Regions from separate parts of the Homo sapiens genome. Here all the other regions are linked to region 2. The links come from fine-mapping of genetic effects on gene expression. A gene starts in region 2. Each other region holds a variant in brackets. All regions are shown on one strand. Distances are from middle to middle.

Region 1 (10,222 bases), 110 kb after region 2:
AGACTTGGCTCATAGTGAGACAGGAATAATACAGAGTGATCGCCAGAGAATAGAAAAATTCTAGGCAGCAGTTTCACATGACTAGCAAAAGGAAACTGTTGAAATAGATTCATAAGCTAGGGGCCTATAAGATCCTGAAAAACAAGATATGGGCCAAGCTGGCTAACACTCACTGGACCCAACATGGTGTTGGATTTGACCCAGGTTTCATCTAGGACCTCATTACATAGTCATTAATATGCTAAATTACCACACTCACCAGTGCCATGACAGTTCTGGAAACATCTATAGTTGGTGTAAAAATGGGTGGCATCACAGTTCCAAAAAATCTTCACCTTTTTCTAAGAATCTTCATCAATATTCCACCCCTGGGTTGAAGAAACCCATAAAGGTAAGAAGCCCCAAACCCCCTTGTATGAGACTCTCTGAGTATACCTTCACTCCCTTTTCTTGAGTGTGTACTTTTCACTTTGCAAGAAATTGTCATACTTTCACTATTTTTTGACTCAGCCCGGAATTCGTTCCCACAGTGGTGTCAAAAGCCTGAACACTAACTGGGGTCGATGTCCCACTGGCATTTGGGGACCTCTCCGAGCCCACCAATATCAATAGTAAGCACTCAAGCATGATTGTTTAATTTAAATTTGATTAATTGCTACTCAATGTGGTCCATCAAGACATTACTTATAATCTCAGAATAGGAGCTTACAAAGCATCATTTTAATAGTCTATATAGTGGCTATTCGTTAGTGAGGAAGTTGTTTAAAGGTAAGTATATTTAATGTGTAAATAATGTGTTAGCTTTTTTATGTAACTGTCTATTTCTTAATTAATACGTTATTTTTAAGGTACTATTTTTCCTCTATTGGGAATACATTATTTGAGGAACCAGAGTGACTGTCAGAATATGGTACTTAGAGATGTAACAGAAATCCATTTAATTTATAAATGAAACTAGAAAAAATTCAAAGTCACAAGTGAATTTTTTTTCATTTTATAAGCATACATGTCCCTTTCCCTGTCACAACCTTCCTATGTTCAAATGCCAGTGAAACACCTAAGCACAGTAAGATGACTTCCTGAATTGAAAATCAAAATGGTTTTGTAAAGCCAGGAAGACTTAGCTTTATTTTTCTTTTGTGAATTTGCAGTAAGTATTCCATGGCATTCTCAGGAAGATCAATATATCTTCAGCTTTGTTTTATACAGCTGTGCAGGCACCACGGTGAGTGAAAGCTCATCTGGGTTCTTAATTGAATATTCTCCTAGAGATGCACCAAAACAGATCAAAACGACTTTCTTTTAATTTCCTTAGGGGACAACTTGCTGGCATGGCCAATGCTGAATTTCCATCTTGCCTCTTTCTCTTGAGTTTCTCCCTTTGAGCAACACTGTAATAGCTGCTGGCTATGCAATTAGGCATCTCTGCTTCCCCTTCAATCTTTTTCTCCTTATTAAGCTAGTAGGAAAATGTTAAGCCCTTAGGCATCTGCATCTATTAATAGGAAGAGAAGATTAACTGTCACTGTTGCATAGATTCATGATTAGTACACTGCTGACAGAGTTCTCTTTTATTTCCTCCTTTTTGGCAACAAGAAAGCCATGGGCATCATTGCAACAACATAAAGTAACTCTGCAGTAGGGCCTCTAATCTCCTTCTGATGGGAGATAGTTGGCCCTCAATCCTGAATTGTTCATTTATGGGATTAAGACAAAGGAAACAAGTAAACTTAGTCCAAGACTCTCATGTAACAGGTAAAGAAATAGAGGTCATGTGATCTTTCACGGGGCATGAAGGTAATTCATGACAAAACAGAAACAAGTAGAGTATCAAGGTCACCTGCTATTTCTAACTCATCATACTGAAATCATTATATTCCCTAGTATTAGGAATTTTTAGATAGCCTAGGAAATCCAGCTAGTCCTGTTTCTCACTGGAATGGAATTACCAAAAAGCATTAGTTGTAAAGAAAAGGCAATGAATTGTTTGTGGTACAAGCCACTCCAAAAGATTTATTTGCTTAATCAGAAAATGTTTTCTTCAAAGCATCTGGGAATTCTCAATGCATATCATTCATTTGGGTCTAGTTTTTATTTTTCTACAAAAAGGCTATTTTAAAGCATAATTAGGTAAGCTAAAATTTATCAAACACAGAGAGGTCATATGTAGCACAATTAAGTGATCCTCAAAGAGTGATGCCTGGACCAGCAGCCACAGGATCACCTTAGAAATTTATGGAAATGCAAATTATCCAGCCCTACTGAATCTGAAATTCTTGGGAAGGCAGATACCTGTGTTTTAACAAATTCGCCTGGTGATTTTGATGCATGCTACAGTTACAGAACAATTGGCAGAGTCATTAAGAAAACTGTCTCTTAAGTCATTGAGTTTGAATCCAAGCCTGCTACTTAGGAGTGTGACTATAAGCACATCACTTAATTTTTCTATTCTTCAGTTTCTTCTTTTGTAAAATGTAGGCTACATTTTCTTAGTGTTGTTTCCCATCCAAGTACTAACCAGCCCCAACTATGGTTAGCTTCCAAGGTCAGAGGAGATCAAGCACATTCAGGGTGGTAGAGCTGTATAATTATTCCATAATGTTGTTATGAAGATTTAGCGAGTTGATATATGTCGAGTGCTCAGAACGGTGCTTGGCGTATTATAAGCTTTATGTGTATGAACATTGTTACTATTACTATTAACATTGTCACATGACAACTAATCTACCAGTTTAGCTAATTGAATTTAGCTTCAAAAATGGCCTTGAGGAACAAGACTGCTAGAAATAATGGGTTAAAAAATTATTTGGAAACGGTTCCCATGAGGAAGATAAGTTTGAGTTGAAGGACACACTGTAATACCTGAGAATTAAGGCTACTCGTGGACTTAGGGATCTCTACACATAATAGTTGATATTTTGCAACAAAAATGCAGTAGAAAACAAGCTTCAATGCAGCACATTTTTCCATGAGCTGTTTAAGGATATGCATCCATTCTATGGATAAAGGGGCTTTATTTTCCACACATGCACCAAAAATCTCAATTATTTCCATTTTTCTTTGCGAGAACCAATGTTTCACCTGTCCCTGTCCTACAGTCACTTCACAGGAATCAGTAAAGGAATCTGTAAAAGAAGGAAATATTGAGAAAGTCTTTGATTAAAAAACAAAGGATTGAAGCTTGTCATATTATACTCTTTCCTCTTCTTTGACCAAGGATTCTCAAACTTGAATATGCATATAACTCACCTGGGGATCTTGTTCAAATGCAAATTCTGATTTACTGGGTTTCCAGTAGGGCTAGTAATTCTACACTTCTAACAAGCTTCCAAGAGATGCTGATACTGCTAGCTCAGCCTCCACACATGCTGTAGCAAGGGTATATATCACAGCTGATTATTAACAAATCCTGTTGAGTCTTTCTTCATGGACTTTTCAACATCATTTCTTCTGTAGCCATCCTGGTTCAGACACTTAACCATGCTTCTGATCTTCAATCTTCCTCACTTTAATTCACCTGTCCTACCACTGCCAAAGTCATTTTCTCCAACTAGTGTTTTGATCACATTTCTCCTGTGTTCAAAAACTTTTATTAGATCCCCTGCCTAAGATTCATGTACTGAGCATCAACCACATGTTGGGAGCTCTGTTATATCCTGGGAATATAAAAATAAATAAAATATTGGCTCTATCTTTCAAAAGCTCAAACAACTAAATAATTTTAAAACAATAAAAAAGCAATAGTACATACATACCATGAAATACTGCAAAAGCATCAAGAAAGGAGTTTAAGAATTGCTTACATAGGCAACACATTACTTTTACAGGATGAATGAGGACCTTTGAAAATTAAACCCAGTGAAAATGGCAAGGAAGGTCATGGAAGAAAAGTGATCAGCGTGAACAAAGGAATAAAGTCAGTGGTGGGCTGCTAAATGTCTAACAATGGGCTCTGGGGAAGGAATGTGCACAGTTGGCCCTTGCAAGCAGGTAAGAGCAGACTGCAGTATATCACTGAGTAGAGATATGTAACAATGTGGAAATGTGAGCAGGTAGTAGTTTGGTGCAATAGAATATGGAGTATAAATTTGGTTGTTGTTAAGATTTTTTTTATAATATAAACATTCTAGACCATTCAAAAAGCCTTGTGATTTTTCTTCCCCACAGTCACCTTAGAAAAGTAGGGATACCAGGTCCTCAGCCATGCTAACCGAACAAAATATATAAACAATAGTGTGATTGAAGTTCACTTTCATTAGAGCAACCATTGCTACCAAAGCTGGGATTGTTGTCCTTTCAGCTGGCTCAGCTGGACTCAAAAAAACAAGCATACTAGGGTCAGTTAGTCCATAATAGTTGAGTCAGCTCTGGGGCTAGACAGATGTTCCACTACTTAGAAGTGTGATCTTTGGAAAAGATTTGTTTAAGTCAGCTTGTACTGCTATAAAAAAGAATACCATAGACTAGGTAGCTTAAAAATTTATTTCTTAAAGATCTGGAAGCTGGAAATGCAAGATCTGGTATCTGGTGAGGGCCTTTTTCCTGCTTTGCAGATGGCTGTCTTCTTGTATCCTCACATGGACCAAAAAAAAAAAAAAAAAACAGCATCTCTCTCATGTCTCCTCTTAAGAGAGTGCTAATCCCATTCACGAGAGCTAATCCTAACATATTGTAGGTTAGGATTTCAGCATATAAATTTTAGGTGGGGGTTTGGGGGAACATTCAGTTCATAACAATATTTAACAACATTGTACTTACTATTTGTCACTGGAAAAGTGGAGACAGTAATTGTACCTTACCTTTTAAACTTTCTGAAAAGATTAAATCAAATATAACAGGACTAAAGTCCGGCTTAAGTGACAGGGATATATAGGGTTCTCAGTAAATATTAGTGTGATGGTTGATTGTTTTGGCAACTTGACTAGGCCACAAGGTGCCTGGATATTTGATTAAATGTTATTCTGGGTATGTCTATGAGGGTGTGTCTGGGTTAGATTAACATTTGAATCAGTAGGCTAAGTAAGGCAAATTGTCTCCCTCAATGTGGATGGGCCTCACCCGATCTGTTCAAGGCCTGAAAAGGTCAAAAGGCTGACTAAGGGAGAATTTGCAGTCTTTGAGCTGAGAAAAGAGTTTTCTCTGACCTTCAGACTCAGACTAGAACTTACACCATCAGCTCTCTTGCTTACTAGGCCTTTGGACTGTGACTGGAACTATACCATTGGTTTTTCTAGGTTTTCAGCTTGCTGGAGCTGGAATAACACGAATAAATTTCTTATTGTAAATCTCTTTCTATAATATATGTATATACACTGACACCACTCACCCCTTCCCCTACAACACATTTCTTATTGGGTTCTGTTTCTTATTGTTCTGTTTCCCTGGAAAATCCTGATTTATACAATTAGTTATATTGTTATCAGAAAGACAGCTCAGAGGAACCAAGATTCAAAATCATCTGTTCACAAAGTTGGTGGTCAGAGTGAATGCTGTAGAAGGTCAGATTAGAACCCTAAGAGTCTTCAGTGATTATGATTAAGACTTCTTGTTTTCCACAACCTTTTATACCAGCTTGGCCCCACGTTTGGGATGGATGGCCATGAAGCTTAAAGGATTCATTCTTTGTTACCTTAGACCACAATGGATATTTAGAACTCTTTGGTGTCCATGTTGGTTATTCAACCCACATTTCTGTGTTACTAACAGTGAGGCATTTGATTGCTAATAGGTGGACAAGATGAGTTTCCCTGAATGCCCTGAATGTTCTGCAAAGTGTAATATAACGGCCACTGGACAGGTGGAGAACTTCCCCAGCTGCCCAGCAATTTCCTCTTAAAAAGGTGGCTGGAGCTAAAGGCATAGTCAAGGTTAATGCTCCTTTTTCTTTATCCCAAATCAGATAGAGTTTAGGCACTTTTTCATCAAATATAGAAACCCAGCCCAGTTCATGGCTCGTTTGGCAGCAACCCTGAGACTCTTTACAGCCCTAGACCCTAAAAGGTCAAAAGGCCGTCTTATTCTCAATATATATTTTGTTACCCAATCCACTCCTGACATTAAATAAAACTCCAAAAATTAAATTCCAGCCCTCGAACCCCACAACAGGACTTAATTAACCTC[G/A]CCTTCAAGGTGTACAATAATAGAGTAGAGGCAGCCAAGTAGCAATGTATTTCTGAGTTGCAATTCCTTGCCTCCACTGTGAGACAAACCCCAGCCACATCTCCAGCACCCAAGAACTCCAAACGCCTGAACTGCAGCTGCCAGGGGTTCCTCCAGAACCTCCTCCCCCGGAGCTTGCTACAAGTGCTGGAAATCTGGCCACTGGGCCAAGGAATGCCCACAGCCCGGGATTCCTCCTAAGCCATGTCCCATCTGTGCGGGACCCCACTGAAAATTGGACTGTTCAACTCACCTGGCAGCCACTCCCAGAGCCCCTGGAACTCTGGCCCAGGGCTCTCTGACTGACTCCTTCCTAGATCTTCTCAGCTTAGCGGCTGAAGACTGACACCGCCCGATCACCTCGGAAGCCCCGTAGACCATCACGGACGCCAAGCTTTGGGTAACTCTCACAGTGGAGGGTACGTCCGTCCCCTTCTTAATCAATACAGAGGCTACCCACTCCACATTATCTTTTTTCAAGGGCCTGTTTCCCTTGCCTCCATAACTGTTGTGGGTATTGACGGCCAGGCTTCTAAACCTCTTAAAACTCCCCAACTCTCTTGCCAACTTGGACAATATTCTTTTATACACTCCTTTTTAGTTATCCCCACCTGCCCAGTTCCCTTATTAGGCTGAGACATTTTAACCAAATTATCTGCTTCCCTGATTATTCCTGGACTACAGCCACATTTCATTGCCACCCTTCTTCCCAACCCAAAGCCTCCTTCGCATCTTTCTCTTGTATCCCCCAACCTTAACCCACAAGTATAGGACATCTCTACTCCCTCCTAGGTGACTGATCATGTACCCCTTACTATCCCCTTAAAACCTAATCATCCTTACCCTTCTCAACACCAATATCCCATCCCACAGCATGCTTTAAAAGGATTAAAGCCTGTTATCACTCGCCTGTTACAGCATGGCCTTTTAAAGCCTATAAACTCCCCCTACAATTCCCTCATTTTACCTGTCCTAAAACCAGACAAACCTTACAGGTTAGTTCAGGATCTGCGCCTTATCAACCAAATTGTTTTGCCTATCCACCCCATGGTGCCAAACCCATGTACTCTCCTATCCTCAATACCTCCCTCCACAACCCATTATTCTGTTCTGGATCTCAAACATACTTTCTTTACTATTCCTTTGCACCCTTCATACTAGCCTCTCTTCGCTTTTACTTGGACTGACCCTGAAACCCCTCAGGCTCAGCAAATTACCTGGGCTGTACTGCCACCAGGCTTCACAGACAGCCCCCATTACTTCAGTCAAGCCCAAATTTCTTCCTCATCTGCTACATATCTCAGCATAATTCTCATGAAAACACACGTGCTCTCCCTGCTGATCATGTCTGGCTAATACCACAAACTCCAATCCTTCTACAAAACAACAACTCCTTTCCTTCCTAGGCATGGTTAGTGTGGTCAGATTTCTTACATAAGAGCTGGGACTGTGCCCTGTAGCCTTTCTGTCCAAACAACTTGACCTTATTGTTTTAGCCTAGCCCTCACGTCTGCGTGCAGCGGCTGCCACTGCTTTAATGCTTTTAGAGGCCCTCAAAATCACAAACTATGCTCAACTCACCCTCTACAGTTCTCATAACTTCCAAAATCTATTTTCTTCCTCACACCTGACGCATATACTTTCTGCCCCCCTCCACTACCTTTCAGCAAGCCGAATTCATTGCCTTAACTCAAGCCCTCACTCTTACAAAAGGACTATGAGTCAATATTTATACTGACTCTAAATATGCCTTCCACATCCTGCACCACCACGCTGGTATATAGGCAGAAAGAGGTTTCCTTACTATGCAAGGGTCCTCCATCATTAATGCATCTTTAATAAAAATGCTTCTCAAAGCCGCTTTACTTCCAAAGGAAGTTGGAGTCATTCACTGCAAGGGCCATCAAAAGGCATCAGATCCTATCACTCAGGGCAACACTTATGTTGATAAGGTAGCTAAAAAAGCAGCTATCAAAAGGCATCAGATCCCATCGGTCAGGACAACGCTTATGCTGATAAGTTAGCTAAAAAAGCAGCTAGTCCCAACTTCTATCCCTCACAGCAGTTTTTCTCCTTCTCATCTGGCCATTCCCACCTACTCCCCCACTGAAACTTCCAACTATCAATCTCTTCCCACACAAGGCAAATGGTTCTTAGACCAAGGAAAATATCTCCTTCCAGATTCACAAGCCCATTCTATTCTGTCGTCATTTCATAACCTCTTCCATGTAGGTTACAAGCTGATAGCCCGTCTCTTAGAACCTCTCATTTCCTTTCCATCGTGGGAATCTGTCCTCAAGGAAATCACTTCTCAGTGTTCCATCTGCTATTCTACTACTCCTCAGGGATTGTTCAGGCCCCCTCCCTTCCCTACACATCAACTCGGGGATTTGCCCCCACCCAGGACTGGCAAATTGACTTTACTCATATGCCTCGAGTCAGGAAACTAAAATACCTCTTGGTCTGGGTAGACACTTTCACTGGATGGGCAGAGGCCTTTCCCACAGAGTCTGAGAAGGCCACTGCAGCCATTTCTTCCCTTCTGTGAGACATAATTCCTTGGTTTGGCCTTCCCACCTCTATACAGTCCGATAACGGACCGGCCTTTACTAGTCAAATCACCCAAGCAGTTTCTCAGGCTCTTGGTATTCAGTGAAACCTTCATACCCCTTACGGTCCTCAATCTTCAGGAAAGGTAGAACGGACTAATGGTCTTTTAAAAACACACCTTACCAAGCTCAGCCACCAACCTAAAAAGGACTGGACAATACTTTTACCACTTGGCCTTCTCAGAATTCAGGCCTGTTCTTGGAATGCTAAAGGGTACAGCCCATTTAAGCCCCTGTATAGACACTCCTTTTTTTTAGGCCCCAGTCTCATTCCAGACACCAGACCAACTTGGACTGCCACCCAAAAAACTGGTCATCCCTACTATCTTCTGTCTAGTCATACTCCTATTCACCATTCTCAACTACTCATAAATGCCCTGCTCTTGTTTACACTGCCGGTTTACACTGTTTCCCCAAGCCATCACAGCTGATATCTCCTGGTGCTAAACTCTTTAGTTTGTTTGTTTTTTGAGACAGAGTCTAGCTCTGTCACCCAGGCTGGAGCGCAGTGGCACGATCTCTGCTCACTGCAAGCTCTGCCTGACGGATTTATGCCATTCTCCCACCTCAGCCTCCCAAGCAGCTGGGACTACAGGCACCCACCACCCCTCCCAGCCATTTTTTTTGGTATTTTTAGTAGAGAAGGGGTTTCACCATGTCAGCCAGGATGGTCTCGATCTCCTGACCTCATGATTTGCCCACCTCGGCCTCCCAAAGTACTGGGATTATGGGCGTGAGCCACCGCGCCCGGCCCCGCCACTCTTAACTCTTAAAGTAAATAAATAATCTTTTCTGGCAGGGCTATGCCAAACCTCCTTGGGCACTCTCTAATTAGATGTCCTGAGTCCTCCCAATTCTTAGTCCTTTAATACCTGTTTTTCTCCTTCTCTTATTCCATTTAGTTTTTCAATTCATACAAAACCGTATCCAGGCCATCACTAATAATTCTATACGACAAATGTTTCTTCTAACAACCCCACAATATCACCCCTTACCACAAAATCTTCCTTCAGCTTAATCTCTCCCAGTCTAGGTTCCCATGCCACCCCTAATCCTGCTCAAAGCAGCCCTGAGAAACAACGCCCATTATCTCTCCATACCACCCCCCAAAATTTTTGCCACCCCAACACTTTATCACTATTTCATTTAATTTTTCTTATTAATATAAGAAGACAGGAATGTCAGGCCTCTGAGCCCAAGATAAGCCATCATATCCCCTGTGACCTGCACGTACACATCCAGATGGCCGTTCCTGCCTTAACTGATGACATTCCACCACAAAAGAAGTGAAAATGTCTTGTTCCTGCCTTAGCTGATGACATTGTCTTGTGAAATTCCTTCTCCTGGCTCATCCTGGCTCAAAAGCTCCCCTGCCGAGCACCTTGTGACCCCCCACCCCTGCCTGCCAGAGAACAACCCCCTTGACTGTAATTTTCCTTTACCTACCCAAATCC
Region 2 (10,222 bases):
GGATAAAAGAAGGTGAGCACAAAAATAACATATGTGATGTTAGAAGAGGAAAGGAATGTACTCTATTACCTTTTGACAAGTGAAAGTTAAGGATTGCACAGCTGACCTCTTAGGAAAGAAAGAGGATGCCTATTGGCAATAAATAGAACTATAAAGAAGTAACATTATGCTTCCAGAAAATTAATCCTTACCTTTTTGTTTCAAAATATGAATGCAACCATAGTTTATTTTATGTTTACTTTATGTAAAAAATGTGTGCTGACTGGATGAGTATAACCATATATATGATGGCATTGAGATAATAAATTTGTAATTTCTCGAACAGTTATCAAAGAATAGTAATTAATTCTTGCCCTAACAAGTTGTATGCCTAGGTCTATCAACCATTATTATTAGGTTGGTAGAAAGGGGTAAGTAAGACTTCCAAATCCTTTAAACCCAGCACTAAACTATAGGGTTCAACATTACAACTACTGGTCTCAAATCCCTAATCCAGGCATTTTTATAAAAACTTTCGATTGGATGACATATTAACTTAGCATAGCCATGATACTAGTTAGTCCTTATTTTCTGGGTAAAACAAAAAGAGAAAAGAAGATAACTAAAATAAATGGAAAATTCAAGTAAAAATTCAATATGGGGAGAAGAGGAAGAAAGAATATTCATCTTAAAAGAGCTGTCTATAGCTATATTTATAATTCAATCACAGATTTTAATGAGGAACTTCAAACTATAGCCTTTGATTTTTATGTAATCTACTTTCTCTTTTTATGAGTAGAAAAAGGACTGACCCCTCCAGGCATAAAGTTGAAAGATCTATATTTGACTACTGAAAGATATTTTAGTGTTTGTAAGGCTGGAAGACAGGAATAGAGATGAGATAAAATGTGCTTTCAAATAAGTGAAAAGCATAATAAAAATTAGGCAAATAAGTTTTACAAAAAACTTCCATCAAAAGTTAGGCATTTAAAAACTATTATACATGAGAAATTTCATAACAGAAAGCATTAGAAAGCCATGCCCATGTTCTTATTGTCTCCCCAAGAATCAAAAAGTGCTTTATAATTATTAAATAGAAGTTTTACATTTATCTAAAGAAGCTTTTATTTAGCAAATAAGAAAACAGTAATAGAAAAATTAGTAAATTAAATTAGGTAGTAGGAAAAGAATACATGCACTATAGTTACTAGCATTAAATATTATACTGGATTTTGTTGCCTTAAAAATTCTACACATTCTGCATTAAAGACACATAAATTTTGCATTTAAATTGTTAAATGGAGGTTAAAAGGGGGAAATTGTGTGTAATATTTAATCAGAATAATGTATAAAACTGATAGGGACATATTATTATGCCAAGATTTTGGTATAGCTTCTATTTAAAAATACAGTTGACTGTTTTAGGTCACTTAATCTCAGTTCTTAAGAGAAAATGAGAGCAACTTATTAAAGGCAAATCTCCCCTCTAATTTTGCTGAATGTTATTATTTCCCCAATAAAACATGACTCCTTTTTAATGAAGTCTAAGGAATAACAGGAACTACAGCAATTCATTTAAATTACCATGCCTACAGGAAAGATTAACTTTGAACAAGCTACGCTAACTGACTAGTTGAAGAGCTACTCACAGATCAACTCTCTCCCTTCGCCATGGGGAGAATTTCACCATAATTTTGTTTAAATATAAATTGATGCCACAGGTAAATCGTGTTTACTTCTAGCACTGACATCTTCCTAACAAATCAAAAGTAAAAGACTTTATAAGAATATTATATGTATTGTTTTAACTAGATGTTTTTATCACCTTGTGTTAATATAGCACCTTGCTCCAAATTTGTCGACACTATACATCTTTCATCTTTTTAACTAGGATACTCTTTATGGTATATGTGGTACATTTCCTTAGGCAGAAAAATTATTATCAGTACCCTGCACCAGTGTAGAGACTGAGTGCTTCAGAATCATTGTACCTTTGTATGAAGAAAATAAACAAAAACTAACATATAGGTTAATTCTAATTATGACTGGCTTTGTTGAAATAAAATGTAATAAAATCTATAAACATCAAAAATATGTTGTCTGGAAAAGACATCTGTAATAAATAACCTTAAATGTTTAAAAAACTAAAGAATGTCTATAAATAACCTTTAATGTCTAATTGTCAATTTCCATTACATCAGTTAATATTGTAAACTACTCTTCAGTAAGTCTCAAAGTGATACATAAACATGGATTGCTTGAACAGAAACCTTGCCACTATACTAACAAAGTATTTCTATCTGTCTAGTAGGCCTAACCTAAAGAAGCAGGTGCTATATTGTGGTCTATGCAAAGCTAAAGACACATACAGTTACTATTGTAATAAACATATCTACAACACAACTGCCCAGCTTGATCTGACAAACTGCTTGGTTCAAACAGCGGTCAATAACAATACACTAAGTTAAATTTTAAAAAATTGTATGCAGTTCATTGAAATTAATTATATATGAATATGATCTACCCAAATTATTTATTCATAGTTAATGAACGTTTACATCAGAACCAGGTTGATAATTTTCCACTGTGGTGTACAAAATGTAGTTTATTTACTGTATGTAGCACAGTAAATATGCATATGATATGATGTGACAGGACAAGTGAACTGCTTTAATTTAAACACTTTACTGAGCAACTTGGTCAAGGATAATTATGGTAAGATCTTGTAAGTGAATAATGAAAATGACACAAGAGCAAAACTTTTTAAAAGCACATTGGATCCCTTTTAACTACAACATTAAGTTGGGGCTGTGTAAAACAATATATACTTGTGGATTGGAAATTGAAATTTCAAAGGCAAAATCTCAAATATTGATCAGATTTTCATTTTATTAATACTAAATTCAGACTCTGGCTTCAGTTCTCTACGCAACCTCAGATAAATATTTTTCATTGTACGAACTATTTATTTAAGGTCATCTTTTTCAATTTATGGACATCTGAAAACTACTAAGACAAATCCCTCTAGGGAAAAAAATGAATTGTAAATCACACACAGAGACAAACAACTGGGCTTTAAGCCTTCCTTCCCATACTCTAATTGGATGAGTGATTAAGAAGGACTTCTCTTGTTTGTGGTGGTGCCCTCTAACGACTAGACGGACCTTGCTTTAATAACCACTCCATGTGCAATTTGTTTTAGCATTTACACCGTTGATGGTAGGAAGCAATTCTTCTTTAATGGATGCTGAAAGCTTCAAGTGAAATCTGTAATTGACAAAGGCTTCACAGAAACAGGCAATTAAGAATAAAATTAACAAGAGGCTCTACAGGAAAAGCACTCAAGCTTTCAAAGAATACTTCTCCAAGAAAATATTTAGTAAAAATAAAAATTTAAAAGAACCAAGTGTGGTTTCTTCCACTTTACTATCTGCTTCTTGTATCTGTGTGTTTGTTAAAAAGATGACCATAGAGTTAAAGTCATTGGGTCCAGAGGAGTAATCCGCCTCCTAATATTATTAGGGGGAAAAAAAGGAAAGAAAAAAATAAGAAAAGCCCATCGTGAAAGTTGAGGCAAGTTCAGCACCTATTTCTTCAAAATAACAGCTGTTCAGTTGAGTTCTAGTACCTCGCATTGAATGGGGTAGTGTGTAGACAACAAATAAAATCGCTCTGAATAGCGAAGCAACAGGGACAGGAAGGCGAACAGGGCACTAATTGCCCTCATGGCTCCAGGAGCCAACAGCAGTCCTCACGTGTTACTAGTCCAGTAAGTGATACAAGCAGATCCGAAATGACGAATATAAACAAGAGCACGAGAGTGAGTGGAAAAGGAACAGAACTGTCAACCGCATTCTTTGCCCAGTCCTCCAACCCCCAACCCCCCAAAAGGAAGTTTACCTGTGGCTATAGGTAGAACCAGGGGAGGGGGCCCGGGCTGGTTCTCAGACGAGTTACTCCGCGGGTTTGGGGGACGCAGGTCTCCCGGTGGGGAAGGGGCGGGGAGCACTTACTTTGAGCAGCTTGCAGCGAATCTGCGCGGAGACCATGTGGCTGTTGCGCAGGTTGCCCACCCGGAACATAAGCGTGAGTTTTCCGTCCCTCATGGAGATCACCGCGTGCTCGCTGAACATGAGGGTCTCGGCGCGCTTCTTGGGCTGGGACATCTTGATGAACATGCAGCCGATGAGGAAGGCGTCCACGATGGAGCCCAGGATGGACTGGAAGAGGAAGAGGATGATGCCCTCGGGGCACTTGTCTGTGATGTATCGGTAGCCATAGCCGATGGTGGCCTCCGTCTCGATGAAGAAGAGGAAGGCAGAAGGGAAGTTATAGACATTGGCCACGCAAGGCGTGTAGTTACCGACGTGGGCTTTGTTCAGGTCGCCCCGAGTGTAGGCGATCACCCACCACATGGACGCCATGAAAAGCCAGGCCACGGTGTAGGTGAGAATGAAGATGAAGAGGTTCCAGCGCCACTTGAGGTCCACCAGCGTGGTGAAGAGGTCCGAGAGGTAGCGGCTTGTCTCGCTGCCCAGGTTGCCGTGCTGTACATTGCACCGGCCGTTCTTGTCCACGAACCGCTGCCGCTTCTTCTTGGGCACAAGCTGCTGCTGAGGGTCCTGGCCTGGCCCCTGGGGCTGCAAGCCCGAGCCGCTGGACGATGTGGTCACTACCTGATAATCGTCCCCAAATTTCCTTCGGAGTGCAGACATAATACGAAGGGGCGAGCCAGATTCAAACGCGAAGCGAAGGCGCAGGAGCTGGGCGCTGCAAACTAGCACCAATAAGGAGGTGGGGGCGGGGGAGGAAAGGGGGCGAAGCGAGCGCTCCTGGGTGGGGGGCGCACCCGGCAGGTAGCTGCGGTCTCTGCCCCCTGCAGACGCCTCTCCTTCTCCCCTGGGACGGAGGCCTTCTTTCCAAGGTGAGTCTTTAAAAAGTGTTCTCCCGCACTCAAGCCAGGAGGGATGCAAGGAACAGGAACCCAAGCGCAATTTTGCCTCCAAGCTTCCAGAGGCTCCTCTTTTCTTTCCCCACCACCGGCATCCCGGGTCACCTCTTGACTCCCCACGGCCCTCCTGATTATCCTGCAGTACCCCCAAACTGACTGCTTAAAATTAATGAGTTGACAAGCGAGTCCCAACCCACCTGCCAACTCGCTGGCTGCCTAAGAAGCTGCCTTTACCTGCCTGGACCAGACCCTCCCCCCTCCCCGCCGCTCCCCAATCTCCCGCCCCCTGGGACCGCTCCCCGCACCCCCGGCGCACCTGTCTCCTATCTTTTAGCCAAAATCCCGCCCAAAGGCATGTCTGCCGGGCACTGGTGCAACGCCCCCTACCCACGCCCTCCGGGCTCAGATTCCCGGGTTCCGGACTCCAGAGACCTGTCCGCCTGGCGTCCCCCGACCGCCGAGTTTCCGCGGGCGCCACCGGGGCCCTCCGGCGGACCCTCAAGGGCCCGCAGGCCGCCCCCGCGCTCAGCTGAGACACGGCAGTGCGCGAAGCCTGGGCACTCACCCAGCGGGAGAGGGCAGGAGGCGGCGCAGCGGGCGGTAGCGGCAGCCTGGCCTCGCACTCTGCGCTCACGGCTGTTTTCCTCGTTCCCACTTTTCCTGGTGTACCACGATGGGCGCCAATGCAGGTCCCCCAAGCTCCGCACCTCCCTGAGGGCACCGCGCTGTCCCTGCCAGAAAGATCCTTGGCGCACAGAGCACAGAATGACTCGAGCGGGGGCTCGTGGGTTCCTTGGCGCTGTGCCCTCCTTCCAGGCGACAGCGGTGCTGCTGGACGGGGTTCGAGCCTTGGGCTGCCGGTCAGACTTTCAGGTTAAACAGTAGCGCCGCTCTAGCTTTTCCTCTGCCTCTTCCTTCTTCGGTCCCCCACTCCTTGTCAGCGCCTCGGTGGCCCCGGGTGGAAGATGCGAGGCGCAAGCCGGGGCAGCAGGAATGTGGTGTGTGTGGTGGTGCGTGTGATCAGCTGCAGAGCCGCGCTAGCCCCGCCTGTCCCTGCCTTCCCCCGCTGCTCCACCAGCCTGAATTGCACCTCCGAGCCTCAGTTGAGCCTGCAGTGTCTGGCAGCTCAGGAAAAGCGAGCCCCTCCAATGAGAAGCGGCTCTAAATCTGCTCCCAAACGCCCGCCAACTCTCCTTCCTCGCCCCCTGCATCAGTCAGAAAGCCCCCAGTAAAAAGCAAATGCTGCTCTCTGAAGGAAGAGAAGTACAATATGTCTCTGTAACTGGGCACTCGTTTAAACGGATGCCTGGATTTGGGGTTGCATCATAAACAGAGATCCCAACTGGCTCTCAGATAGGCATATTCAGAACTCAAAGTTGCAGGAAGCAGGAGGGGCCTTAGGATGAGAACAGAAAGGAGAGAAACACTAATAGAAATCCTTTCTGCAAATGGCTCTATTAGAAAGGCTCAGAATATCTAGAGTTAATGTGTGCCTATAATTGAAGGAAGAAGGCTGGATTTTAATGGCCTCAGCCTGGCAGTTAACTTAATGGAGGGGCAAAGTGCAGAAATAGCTAATAGAGTGCCCATGAGTAAATACCAGCTTGTTTACCACATTTCACGTTTGCTTTAAAATGCCATGGTATCTTAAGGCATATTTCAGTCAGCCCAGATACATGAAGTTGATTTTGTTGGAAAATCATCAAATCATGGCATTATAAAAGCAAAAGGCTGCTATAAGATTCCCATGGAAAGGAAAATAAGTACATAATTACTCTATGCATTCTCTGCCAATAGGTACTCCTCTCTACCTCTCTACTTATAAACCAACTGCAGGAAAGTGCATGTCAGGTTGTCAGCCATAAGCAGGGGACTCTCACTGTTATTTGGTTAAAACATCTATCCTCAGTTACAGATGCTTCTCCTGCCAGTTCGCTGATAAAAGGTCAGTAACTATCTGTTTGTTCTCTTAAAATTACATAAGAAGGGAAAGTGACACCGTGGGAAGTGGAAACTTCTCTGGTCCTAGAATCATAAGACCTGATTTGAGTCGCGTCTGTGCCATTTACAAGCTGTGTGACCTTGAGCAAGTAGCTGAACAACTTTGAGACCTAATTTTCTCCCCTGAGAAATTGGGAGTTTGAACATTTTCCTAGTGTTGGTATGAAAAAAGAGAGTAAATGTGTTTTTTTTATTTCTGCTATGAAGGATGTTATATAGTGGGCTATAAAGTTGCAACAAGACCAAGAAGAGATTACAAATGAGCTTTTGGAGTTGGCAGCATGCTGTGAACTAACACCTATACTCTCATCTCATCTCTGACTACTCTCCCCCAAGCTCATTATGCCCTTGGCAGCTTGGCTTCTTTCAATTCCTGATACACACCAAAGCATAGCTCCAGCCCTGGGCCTTTGCACTAGATCTGTTCCCTCTACCTAGAAAGTTCTTGCTCTGCCGCTCCGTGTTGCTCGCTCCTTCACTCATTCAACTCTCAACCTAAATGCATCCTTCTCAGGGAAGCCTTCCCTAGCATCTCAGGTATTCCCATCACATCAACCTTATCTATGTTCCTCATCTCACTTTTTTTTTTAGCTACCATTTTCTTCATTTGTTTGTTGTCTTTCTCTTCCACCATTATCAGTTGTAGCATGTAAGCTGTACAAGAGCAAGGACCTCATCTGTCTTGTTCTCTGCTATGTCTCCAGTACCTAGAAAAGTATCACATACTAGGTCCACAATAAATATTTATTAGATCAATAATATGTGCCAATCTATATCACTGGAAACTTTACATGCATTGAAGCTCTCTGAGTAATATGGAATTAAATAAAAGTAATGACTAAATCAGATCACTTATATGGCAATATAAAAAACATGTAAGTTTTTGTTGAAAAAGAGTAATACTTCCTATGCTCGTTAGCTTTAGAAATGATACTGAATCAGGTTCCAAGTCTTTTTTATTGTTATTGCTGCAATATCCCTCATAATTCCCCCTCTCTTTAAAAAAAAAAAGTCACTACTGTTCTTCAAATTCTCATTTCAAGTTAGGCCCAACTCAAATAACTTTCTTGTCTTTATTTGGTTTTCCTCTCCTGCAGACTGCCCAGGATAGTAGTACTAGATCTCTCACCTTAAACCATGTGTTTAGTATTGTTATAGAAAATAAAAGTTCTCCAGTTATTTCATCTGGAAGATCTTAAAACATTCCCACTTTTTGAAAAACACTTTTTCATGAAAAACCTTTGCCATTTTCTAGCAACCAAATTTATAAACAAATAAGTTTATACTTCAGGAGACATGGTCTAGTCTAATCCTCTCATTTTACAAGTGAGGAAATTGGGGATATAAAGGCGAAATAACTTGTTCAATGTCACAGAGTTGATAAGTGGAAACAGATTTGACCACAGAACAATATGACTGTAGAACCTGGATGCTCTACCGTCCCTTACCAGGTAGTGGCAGAGTAAGAAAAGAGCCTAGGATTCCTGATTCGTGGCAAAGGCCTTCTTCCTTTATAGGCCTAGCTTCTCATGCAGGTGAAATCTAAGATTCTCCAACACATGGCATAATCTAGCTTTCCAAATTATCTCCTACCTTCCTTTTAATGGGCACTTTGCTCTAGCCAACTTTGACTATTAGGTATTTCTCAAACATGCCCTATATTATCTTCATTTGCTCACTTTTTTTCTCATCACTTAGAATATCTTTTTTCTACACCTGCAAAGTTCAAATAATAGGCACTAGTATGTAAGGAAAGGGAAGGACTTCTTCATATTTTATTTCAATTGCTATTGATGTCATAAAGTTTTTCCTTATATACTCCCACTAAGAGTAATACATCCCTCCTCTGAACTCTCATTTCCCTAGATTTGCAATGTGGCATTTTTCACATTCTAACTGGTATTTCAGCTTAGAATTTATGAAGATTCCCTCTGAGCACCCTGAGCATCGACTTCTTAATAATTTGGTACCATCCGGTATTCCATGATCCAAACTGGCCTTACGCATGATAAACACTTGATAGAGTTTTAGAGAGAACCAAAATTTATTAAGAACCTACTTTAATGTGCCAGGTAATGTGCTTAGAACTGTACAGGTTAGCATTTATATTACACAGATAGGCAGTGAAGCAGGGATTCCAAAACACATCTGCTTATTGTCAAGATTTCTATTCTTTTAATGACACAGTCCTGCCAGGGAAATTAAATATTTTTAAGGATGCCATTTTGTCACACTTTAAATGTCACTGAGGCTTTGACCTATTTGTGACATTGAGTTCAACTCCTTGAAAATGTTCACAGATGAACCAAACTCATCTTTTCCTGTGAGGGCAGCTGCTTCCAGGATGAGGTTCTGGAGGGCAGCCAGCCCCGTTGTGCAGAGGCCAGGAGGATGTGTGGGGAATGGATGATGGAAGGCCTCCTAATCAGGTGCTGTCTGATGAACTGAAGTGAAACACTGCAAGCAGAATGGGTCAAAGGAGAGAGAGGCACACAATTTCAGGCCAGGCCACAAAGCCAGAAAAGATCTGGAAAATGTAACTGCAGAATACAAAATCATCTGGAGTCTAACATTTAAAGATAGGGTGGTAGATTACGAGAAAACTACCATACAGTTCATGAGGGTGGGGGGGATCAAAGCTATATTTAACAAACTCGGCTAGGAGCAAGCTACATATTTATTCTGCCTGGAAAGTACTTCTGGCAGTGTCTTATTTGCTGTGTCCAAAATTAGTAATATCATGAATAACTATAACTTCAAAAATGAAGAATATGATTCTGTGTTTTATACTTTCTACATGCACTTATCCTATTATGTAACTGAACGGTGTGGGGAAAAGAGTATATCTAATATGAAAGAAAAAACCTCTGCCCCTGAGAAGTCCAAATTCTAAAAATGACTTAATCGGCCAACTGTGACAAAAGCAAGGCTTTGAACATCTCAGTATCCCTGGAGTCTGTCTTCTCGTCATTCACTTATTGCCACTGTGACATACCACGTGACAGTCTGCATGGCCAGAAATATTAATTACTGTCTGGGGAAGATGGTATTATATTTAATACTCCTTTACTCCTAATCCTACCATTCTCCAAAAGTACAATGAAGAGATGGGCAGGCCTGGGGATCTAATGCTTTCATACATCAAAAGGTGACACATTCCCATTGCCACCATAAGTTTTGCTATATCTGGGAAGAGGTCACTCTTTGAAATTCTATATGCAATTTTGGGAAATAGAATGGTGTTCCTTTTTTTTTACCCTCCTAAAAAAGAATGCTGAAGTTATTTTCTCT
Region 3 (10,222 bases), 160 kb before region 2:
TAGCAACACTGGAAACTAGAAAAAAAAAGAACAATGTCACTGAAATTCAGAAGAAAAAATAATTTGTACAAGAGACCAAACAATTAATTACAAGGGAAAGATTTATTTAAATATGTGCAAGGCCTCTAAGAGTTTATCACTATTTCTTTCTCAGAAACCCCTGGAAAATATGTTTTATCAAAACAAATTTTATCAAAACAAAACAAAGTAAACACAGAAAGAAGAAAACATGTTCCATGAAACAGGGTTTCTACACCAAGAACAAGGTGAATGGACTCTCCAGGATGATTACAAAGGAAGATCCCAAGACAACACCTGTATGGCGTCAAAAGATCTTTCCTTCATAGGAAACGTCTCAGAACGTCTTGGTGGAGGCTTCTTCAAGAAGATGAAACTTGTAGGGTATCTAATGAGTCTGACAAATTAACAGGAAATCATTTACATAATTGGGGAAGATTCTATGACTGTATTAGTGATACATACATAAATGAACAAAGAAGTCAGTTATCAATTATAGGAGGAAGAAGCTACAAAGGGTGAGAAAAATAATCAAAATACATGGGGCTCAGTTGTGATAGAACTTAATGAGGACATTGATAATTAAACTCTTAAAATATAGTGTTGAAAATCTAACTATACTAGAGTGGATGTTGAAGACGTATAGTGGATAGCAAGGGTTAAAATAGAACTAAATAATTTACCACAGTGGAAGACAAACAAATAATACCCCAAAATGGAAAACCAAGGGAAGCAATAAAAGAATGATTAGAAATTTGCATGTAAATAACAATAGAGTCATTTAAAAGGGTTGAAAGTCTTTGTCTCTGGGGAGAGAGTGAGGAGAGAGTAGGTAGAGAGTGGGGGCTGTTTTTATTGTAACAAGCCTTGTAAAAACTTCATGACTCTTTATGTGTATGTGTGACTTTCTACTCTATATATATATATATATACACACACACAGATATATGCACATGTATATATGAAAGCGTGTGTGTGTGTGTATATATTTATGTATATATATATAAGACATGTGAAACAATGTCTTTAAAATTCAGGAGTTTCTTCCATGTATGTGAGTGTGTGTGTGTGTGTCTGTGTGCAAATTCAGGAGAATTAGACATGGAGATAGGTTCTAATTTGGGGACTGAGATTTTAACACCTATAATGGGAAAGGTGCAACTTCGATACCTGTTAAACAGGAAACTGGAACTGAAGACCCTGAATAAGTCTAGGGCTGTGTAAAACCTTATCAGGAACCAAACTTTCCACCTAAGGCCCAGTGACAAGGAAGCTTGTCTGTGCACGGGGCTATGGAGAGAGCAGAAGGTATTCTGGGAGAAGCTGAAACCTCAAACCTAAGCATCATGCAATTATGGATATCTTATCCAGGATATCCCATGTGAAGAAATTTTTGTTACCTGAAAAATGAAATCATAGTGAAACTGAAGAATATGAAAATATTTTCCTTCCTGAAAACACGTCAATTAGACATATAATATACTTTTAATCAACAAGAATGTCCAGAAAAAAAATGTAAAAAAAGAAAAAAACATTTAAGATGATCACAGATGTTTGCCTAAATAACTGTTAAAATACATACTTAATTAAGAAAAAAAAGAAAGGATGAATGAGTAGGATGCAAGAAGCTATGGTGAATGAAGAAATCAGGAAATATATAGCCAATTATACAGATGCATTGACTTAAAAATAACAGTTTTTTGTTAGAACATTAAAAACACGTGTAATACTATGCAAAAATAGCAGAGAAAACAGGGGAAGATGTGGCTGAATTTAATACGCTGTAAGATCCTTCTTTTGTTTGAAAGGAAGGTGGAGATGTTAATTAGCTTTGGTTTCATTAGTTGCTGTACTCAAGCTTAAATTTTGAAGGTTACTACAATAATAGACATGGAAATTTTTTTTAAAAAAGGCAAAGAAAGAAAACACAAAATCCAAGAGAAGAAAGAAAAAATAAAAACAAATTTATCAGTAGGTGTGTATCTATGAATATTTATATTTATATTAAATATATATTTATATAGCATGTTATATATAACATATTTTATAGAAACATATTTATATAACAAATACATTTTATATATAAATATCACATATTTATATACATTTGTATAGAAATATATTCAAGTAAAATATCAGATTGTTATAGTATGCATTACATATAAATTTATGCATATGCAGTATACATATACACACCAGCACAGGAAATATACACACTCATTTCTAGGTAGTGATGGCTTCCGATGAGGAAGAGAAATGGAATAGTGTAGGATTTGGAAGAGACAAAGTGGCTGTTTTAGGTTTCTTTCTTTTTCTTTTTATTCTTTCTCTTCTTTTGAGACAAGGTCTTACTCTGTCACCCAGGCTGGAGTGCAGTGTCGTAGATCATAACTCATTACAACCCCCAAACTCCTGGGCTCAAGGGATCCTCCCACCTCAGTCTCCCTAGTAGCTAAGATTATAGGCACATGCCACTATGCCCAGCTAATTTTTTTAAACTTATTTTTAGTAGAGATGAAGTGCCACTGTTGCCCAGGCTGGTCTTGAACCCCTGGGCTCAAGCAATCCTCCTGCCTTGGCCTCCCAAAGTGCTGAGACTACAGGTGGGCCACCATGCCCAGCCTGTTTTAGATTTCTATGACACTTTATTTATTTAATAAGTACATGAGGTAAATACAGCAAAATGTTACTGTATCATTTTTTAAAAAAACCTCTGGGTCTGAGGTACCTGGGTTTGAAGAAACTTTCTGCTTATTTGCAGTATTTTTTCAAGTATCCACTGGACTCTTGATTTTTTAGCTTGTCTTTTTCATTTTTACCTCTTTGCCACTTAGGTATTTCTTTGTGCAACACTTCAAGTGTCTACTTTCCTCCACATTTTCTTCATTTTTATTTGTCCTTGCTTCCTACCTACTTTTTTTTTCCTCCTCTAACCAACACACAATTGTGACCACAGCTACTCCTTACACGACTCTCATTTTCCATCCACCATTTCTCCAAATGACAGCTAGGAAAAATGCAAACTCCATTGCACAAGACATTCTGTTAGGTTAGAAGCCATTGCACACAGTCATTGAATATTTATGTTCATGCATCCAAATTTTCTGGAATATGCAGTTGTTTTTAAAAGGGATTCTCTTTATTCTTTATACTTCCAGGGAGCAGAGACTATACCCCATGTTTGTGGATTTAATTAAAAACCCGCTAAACAGCCTCTCTGAGAATAAGTTTCTTTAAGTGTAAAATAGGGATGATCTTTACCATGCAGAGTTGTTTCTAATATATAAATAATGTGTGCAAGTCACCATGTACATGATTGACACATTCAGAGCTGGGAGAGGATAAATAGAAGCATGGATTTGATTCTTAGTAAACAAGGAGAATATAGTAGGTCCTACAGTATTTGTGCTCTATAGCATCTATTGGTCAGAAAAAGCCCAGATATTCTGAAACAGCTATAATTTCAAAAAATCTTTACAAGTAGATTTAAAAATCCCAAAGAAATCACAGTGAAACTGGAGAATATCTAAGTTAAAGAGAATATGCAAACATCTTCCTCTCTGAAAACACAGCATTCAGACATATAATAGACCTTTAAGCAACAAGAAAGTCCAGAAGAAAATTGTAAACAACAACAACAACAACAAAATATATTTTGAGGAACAACCCTAACAATTCTATTAAATGATAAAAGACCATCTGTATGGAAATCTACTAGGTCAGAAGCTGTAGCGACTTAGCTTTTCTAAATTAATTCTCTGAGGTGCCTGGGAGTTGGGCACATTACACATCACAAAACTCATCTGATCCAAGATTAAGAACACATTTTTCTGTGAAACACAGGTGAAGCAACTGAATGCTTTATTAAAAGATGATTAGATACTTAAACAAAATTAGAAAAACTATGCGTTTGTCTGCTTTACTTACTGTAGCTTTTAAAACACTGGTTCAGCAAGGGGTAGGATAACCATGAAGCTTCCTCCAAGAAACGCAGGTCCTGAGTATCTGCATTATTAAGCTGACGTTTGGTATTGCTGAAGCATCTTACCAATAAGCAGCCAAAATAAAAGGAATTATCAAGGAATGACTTGTGATGAATTTAATGATTGCCCTTCAGGAATTAAGAGTCTTATGATAAACAAACTGAGTCAAGAAATGTGAATAATTAAGTGGTGAAGAGTGCAAAAAGGATGAGAACACTAAAAATTAAACCCAATCATGTTTCAAAAGTTTAATACCGTTTTTTATAAAATTGAACTTGCAGTATTGAATACATGAGTTTATATTTTTGAAACTAAATGACCTTTTACACTTAAATAATTATAGATTTCATGCCAGAAAATGGAATTAGGTTGATGCTAATTTAAATATGTACAATGTAATTCAAACATAAATTCTGAAGAATGTAAGAACTAATAGAATGTAAGCCAGCTTTCCCATGATGACCCCAGTCTTCCTCCAGTAGAAATACTGTATTATGAGCCATTTTGTCCTGACAAAAAGGCTCTTTTCATAATATTTTAAGCCATATATAGATAAATTTAAAACAGCATAAGAATCTTTCAGAAATAATTAATGGTAAAATATCCTTATTTTTCATTTTGTATATATTTACAAAAGGGTATTTACATATTTCTGAAAAGAATAAATGTTTAAACTGAAGATAAGCATTACCAAAATAATTGTGTTTCTTTTATTTACACCATTTTGATAAATAGAATGAAATATCTTACTATAACAGGACCTATATCATGAAAATGCTATAAAAAAGTTCTAGTTTCCACTTGTTATGATAGTTCAATGATCACATTAGGTTTTCCTTTCCAATAGCCATGACATTGGTGGGCTGAAAATGATCTTGGCTTAAATTGACTTTTACTGTCTTTAATGTGAGCTCTTACAACTTCCAGAAATGGAAATAGCAGAGGTTAGGTTTTTATTCATTCAATAAAATGCATAACTTTTCATTACTGAGAGACATGTCACGAACATATTGAACAAATGTTACATGAAACAACTTTGGTAAGAAGTACTTCAGGCTGAAATATACGAAGCTGAGATGATTTTGCTTAGAATGATGTGTCAAAAAATCAGCAAAAGGAGAAGAAAAGCAATTCTTTATTTTTATCCAAATATATCAGACTTCATAATTTAGTTTCAACAAAAACTTCACCATATATCATCCAAACCAAGACATTGTAAGAGTGAAAGGGAGTGCTACCAATAATTACACAGGTACAACAGGTATAAACTGGAATTTTCCTGGGTAAACTGGGACCTATGATCAACCTAGAAATAAGGGTTAAACTGCAATTACATGCAGAAATCATACCTTTCCCACGCATGTGTGGAAAAGATAAAAAAAATACCATTCACTCAGATAAGGTAATTTTGACAACAGTAGCACTTTCTCATGAGATAGATTTCTGTTCACATATTATCCCCGTCCTAAGCCAGTCACATTTTCTAAAATAATCAATTTTTATTCCACACAGTTACTTTGCATTATGTTACCCTGTTTTTATTCTTTTTTTTTTTTTTTTTTTTTTTTTTTTTTTTTTTTTTTTTGATGTTGAGATGGAGTCTCGCACTGTCACCCAGGCTG[G/A]AGTGCAGTGGCAGAATCTTGGCTCACTGCAACCTCCGCCTCCCAGGTTCAAACGATTCTCCTGCCTCAGCTTCCCCAGTAGCTGGGATTACAGGTGCCTGCCACCATGCCCAGTTAATTTTTGTATTTTTAGTAGAGACGGGTTTTCACCATGTTGTCCAGGCTGGTCTCGATCTCCTGACCTCAGGTGATCCCCCAACCTCCGCCTCCCAAAGTACTGGGATTACAGGCGTGAGCCACTGAGTCAGGCCTGTTTTCATTCTCTTAACTGATACTTTGATTGTCTGAAGTGGTCTTATTTGTTTTTTGTCTCCTCCCCACTCTCCTTCTGGTATACAGTGTTCATGGTGAGCAATGGCCTTCTCTGACTTAGCCATGTCCAAATCCCCAGGAACTAAAAATGCCTACGACATAGAAGGCATGCAAAAATTTTGTTGAATGTGTGAATATACTTGGAGAGTTTGTTTTTGGTTCCGTCTTCTCCTTGGTACCAAAGACAAATTAAAATGACTCTCCAAAGTAAATTATGGCTCTATTTAGTTTTAAGTTCTTGGACTAAATGATCTATGCACTTTTTTTCCACTGCTGATAAATATACCATGCCCTGTGGACCCCCTTCTCTCTCTGTCACTATTTTGTTTCCTACATCTACAAACTAAGAAAGCTAGGTTATCAATGGGTATAGGGCAATTTGCTCCATTCACAGTGGATGCACACTCCAGATTGATCATTTTGCCAGTAAGAATTCCCTGGTATATGTTTGCACCTACAGAATTTGGTTGATACAGAGGTAGCCAGAAGGTATTATTATAGTCAATGATTTAAGTGTTGATGTATTAATTTGCCAATAATAAAATTATCACAAAATTGTTAAAAAACAGGAAATAATGAGAGCCCAAACTAGCAATTAATGACTGACATATTAATAAGAATTTTTTTTAAAGTTGGGGCAGACTGGAATTACAATACTTAAAGAAGTTTTATAGGAAAACCCATGATATTCTGTTAAGGAGCACTTTTAAATTTTCATAAAAGTCTGCATTCCAAATTTTTATTTTGAAAGTGTTCTACTGATCACTAGTTTTGATTCCTGCTAATGAGTCATAAATATCAGACTTCAGGATTAGAAAAAACAGTACTGTTAAAATTATTTGGGTAGACTAGGGATCTAAGACACCAATAAAATCAGTGTTCACCAAAAAACTGTGTGTAAGATATCTTCAATTTATCATCTAATTTTAATTTCTCTCTGGTCTGTGCAAAAACTTCCTCCTGAACTATAAGTGACAGGCATGGGATAGGTTTCCTAGGTGAGGAAAAAGTCTATCCTGTTACAACAAATGCCATAAACAAGAAAACAGAATAAAAAAGAGACTCAATTAGACATACATATTTTAAGCATAAATATTTATCATCTGTTTCATTGCATTGTCATGTCTTCTTAAAATGATTGGTTTTTAAAATGGACAAAATTTCCAGAAAAAGAAAGAAAATGTTTCCAATTTACTCAGTTTGAAACAGGGACAATTAATTGTGTAACTTCACACAGATTCTGATATATTCAATATAACTTGGCTACTGTCTATTAACATGATTCAGTGTTTGTTCAGAGCTCATCTTTGTATTAGATCATATACAAAACAGATTTCCAGATTTTAATTAGTCTAGGAAAGGAATAATTCTCAAATTAATCAACAATTATTTCTCCCCAGTACTAGCAACTTTTAAAAATCATAAGAAATGTTCAATGCTATACTGAGTACTGGTATGCTCTAAAATTTACAATTTAAACATGTAATGGTTATATTTTTGCAGGGCCATAGATAGCACAAACTTGTGTGATTCTCTCATATAAAATACAATTGAAAGCCTCCCAAGACCTTAAACAGCAGAAAACATTAAATCAGATTTTAAAATGACAAAAATTTAAGGCTAAAATATTTGGTATTAATAATTAATGCCAGTAGCCTTCCTACTCTAATAAAGTAAACATGCACAAGAACTACAACTTTGAACAAAACATCACAATTTTATCAGATATATATGTATGTATGTATGTATGTGTATGTATGTGTATATATATATGTATATGTGTGTATACATACACACACACACACAGACATATATTTAGTTTTATCGCCCTGAAAGCTATTCACTCATGTTTGGCTTAATACATATGTTAGAAATGTCAGGGAGAGTATCTCCCCTTTAAATATATATATATATTTTTTTTCCAGAATATACAATATAAATATGCCATATATAAATCATGCCATAAAACTAAATGCAAAATTTGCACATTATTGCATGCTTGATGTGATAATACATGCCCGTTAATAACTTCCTTATGATGTCCTCCCTCCGTAACTGTTGCTTTCTGCACATTCGCAATACTTGGGAAAGGAAGGGTTCTCAAATATGCTTGTAGAACTGGGAGGAAAATATACTTTCAGATTCCTTAGGGAGAATTACCTCATCGCCAAATATTGGACTATTACTAAATCAAACATTAAATAATGCCTAAGGGAGTGCTTTGTTATGTGAAGCGATCAGAGTTCATTTTTCTTAATTTGGCTGGAAGGTTCCCTTCCATCCTAGCTGCTCCTCCAGCCATCTTTTGAAGCTTTGGTGGCAAATCAGCCACAGACTGGCTCATGGGATCAGATAACATCTTGGTGGTTTTAGATACCAGTTTTTCTTCTGAGTTGCCCGGAACTGAACTTATTCGTTGAAGTTTCATGGGCAAGTCTCCCAAGCTGTAGGCTTTTTCTGAAGTTGTAGAACTCATCCTCAAGAGTTTTTTGGGAAAGTCTTCTCTTCCAGTAATTTTCTGCAGCTTAGATGGTAGTTTTGTAGTAATATCATCTAGTCCATCTAAGCATTCCACAGAATTATGTCTTTCTTTGCTGTTAGTTATGGCTGGTGCTATTAAAGGGGACGACATGAGAAGCATTTCCTCCTGCTCTTTCACACTGTAAGGTGGGGTGGGGACTTCAAATGTTGCATGGAACTGGGAGTAATCAACTTTAAAGAATCCCTCTTCTAAGGAAATTACAGGAAAAAAACGATGACCCCAAAGAACTTCATCTTCAGTATATGATGTTCGAGCTTGACAAGTCATCCCTACAAGAAAAGAGAAAATTCTTGATAAATTATGCATAGTGGAAGCACATGTAAAGCCGGTTTGGCCTAAATAATTCATTTCACTTTCTTATCTAGGTTTTGGACTGTTTATCTGAAGCCCGAATAATAGAATAGATTAAAAGTTGTACTCTAAGTTAATAGCTTTGATACATATACTTTCTTTCAACAAAAAACACAGGGTGATGATACTATTCATGTTTGAAGGATAATGCATCATTACCTAAATATTAACCACAAACCAAAAGCAAAAGTAGCATAGAATAATCTCAGAACATACATGTCCCTATAAGGAGATAAGTGGAAAAATTATGTAACAATTTTTCATTGTTTAAGAAACAGTGTCATAAATAAAACAAATCTGATTTTGAATCTAAACTTTAATATTGTGTAAACTTAGAAAATATATTTAACTGAGTATCACTTTATTCTTCTGCAGAGTAAAGCACTGTCAACAATACCTGTCTCACAACACTGCTGTGACCATGAAATAACATATACAGAAATGTAAAATTTGTCATATAATATCTACAATAAGTGACTCAATTAATGGACGCTTACCTTTTTGTCTTTACGTAGCAAAGGATTGCTATGGGGGGTGGGAGGACAAAAGGTAACTCTCCCAAGTATTTGTTAAACGAATAAAAGGTGGTAATATTTATATGCTAGAAAAAGAAAAGTCATTGTGCTGGTTCTATTCTTTTGCATCTATAAGGCCAGAATAAGCTTTTGCTCAAGTTTCAGAAATCCATATGCTAAAATCAGTGTTCTGGGCCATGTGATGTATCAAGTTCCATTCCTGCTCTAGGAATATCTGGAACTGGTTGCTGGCTATCAGATGTAAATTTTTTCAGTTTATCAATTATGTTCCTTGGATATCATTTGCCTCATGGTATTCTAATTTACTCAATTTTGTTCTCTTCATAAATCATTTATTTCGATTGTGTTACAATCAAATCAGTCAACTTGTGAATATTCATTTTGTGAAGACTGGAAGTACAGGAATAAATTAAAACCATATATCAAGTTTCTGTCTCATATTAGTCAAAAGACACAATTTTCTGTAAATAGTAAAATTCACCAATTTCTCTACTTTAATAGAAGTCTAATAGACTTCTATTAAAGGCTATTAAAATGTAAGATAATGATGAATTTTAAAAACCATCCCCTCAATAATTAAGTGTAATTTAAATAAGTGATGATAGTTTTTCTTCATTCATTTCAATTCTCCCCCATCCATTATAAGTAATTTCTATTGTTTTTAAGCCTGGCATAGTTTGAAGGAAGGGATATTCTGTCTTTTTTCTAACTGACTAGCAATCAGACATACAATACATATAGATAATTAGGATATAATGCATAAATAAGAAGCCACATTTGAATCCTTCCAAAATCTTGCCTTATGAATATTCTGTTATATATTACCAAAGAATTAGTTGTTATCACTATATACTATGT

Alleles and levels. Alleles are on the strand shown, and positions count from the first base shown. SD is a standard deviation of normalised expression in the study named. Not every link is listed here.
With allele G in place of A in region 3, the expression in cerebellar hemisphere of the gene that starts at base 4,775 in region 2 is higher (moderate effect, 0.56 SD a copy in GTEx).

The links. PIP is the estimated chance that this variant, and not a neighbour inherited with it, causes the effect. A credible set is the group of variants that fine-mapping cannot tell apart.
Region 1: its variant is the best candidate, but not a certain one, in a credible set for the expression of KCNJ3 in aorta (GTEx, PIP 0.54).
Region 3: its variant is the best candidate, but not a certain one, in a credible set for the expression of KCNJ3 in cerebellar hemisphere (GTEx, PIP 0.54).

What each region holds. Positions count from the first base shown.
Region 1 is chr2:154,582,773-154,592,994 of GRCh38, reverse strand. LOC105373693 (a long non-coding RNA gene) reads right to left here. Exons shown (of 3, transcript XR_001739741.2): 3 at 1-3,125. It also overlaps the pseudogene RNA5SP107. Among named protein-coding and RNA genes, the nearest start is that of KCNJ3, 110 kb to the left of the region's middle. RefSeq lists an enhancer at 8,907-9,634. The variant G/A (reference allele first, on the strand shown) is at 6,121.
Region 2 is chr2:154,693,248-154,703,469 of GRCh38, reverse strand. It overlaps KCNJ3 (potassium inwardly rectifying channel subfamily J member 3), which reads right to left and starts at 4,775. Exons shown (of 3, transcript NM_002239.4): 1 at 3,993-4,775. The coding sequence starts at 4,694.
Region 3 is chr2:154,853,251-154,863,472 of GRCh38, reverse strand. KCNJ3 (potassium inwardly rectifying channel subfamily J member 3) reads right to left here. Exons shown (of 3, transcript NM_002239.4): 3 at 5,119-8,746. The coding sequence ends at 8,160. Among named protein-coding and RNA genes, the nearest start is that of KCNJ3, 160 kb to the right of the region's middle. The variant G/A (reference allele first, on the strand shown) is at 5,624.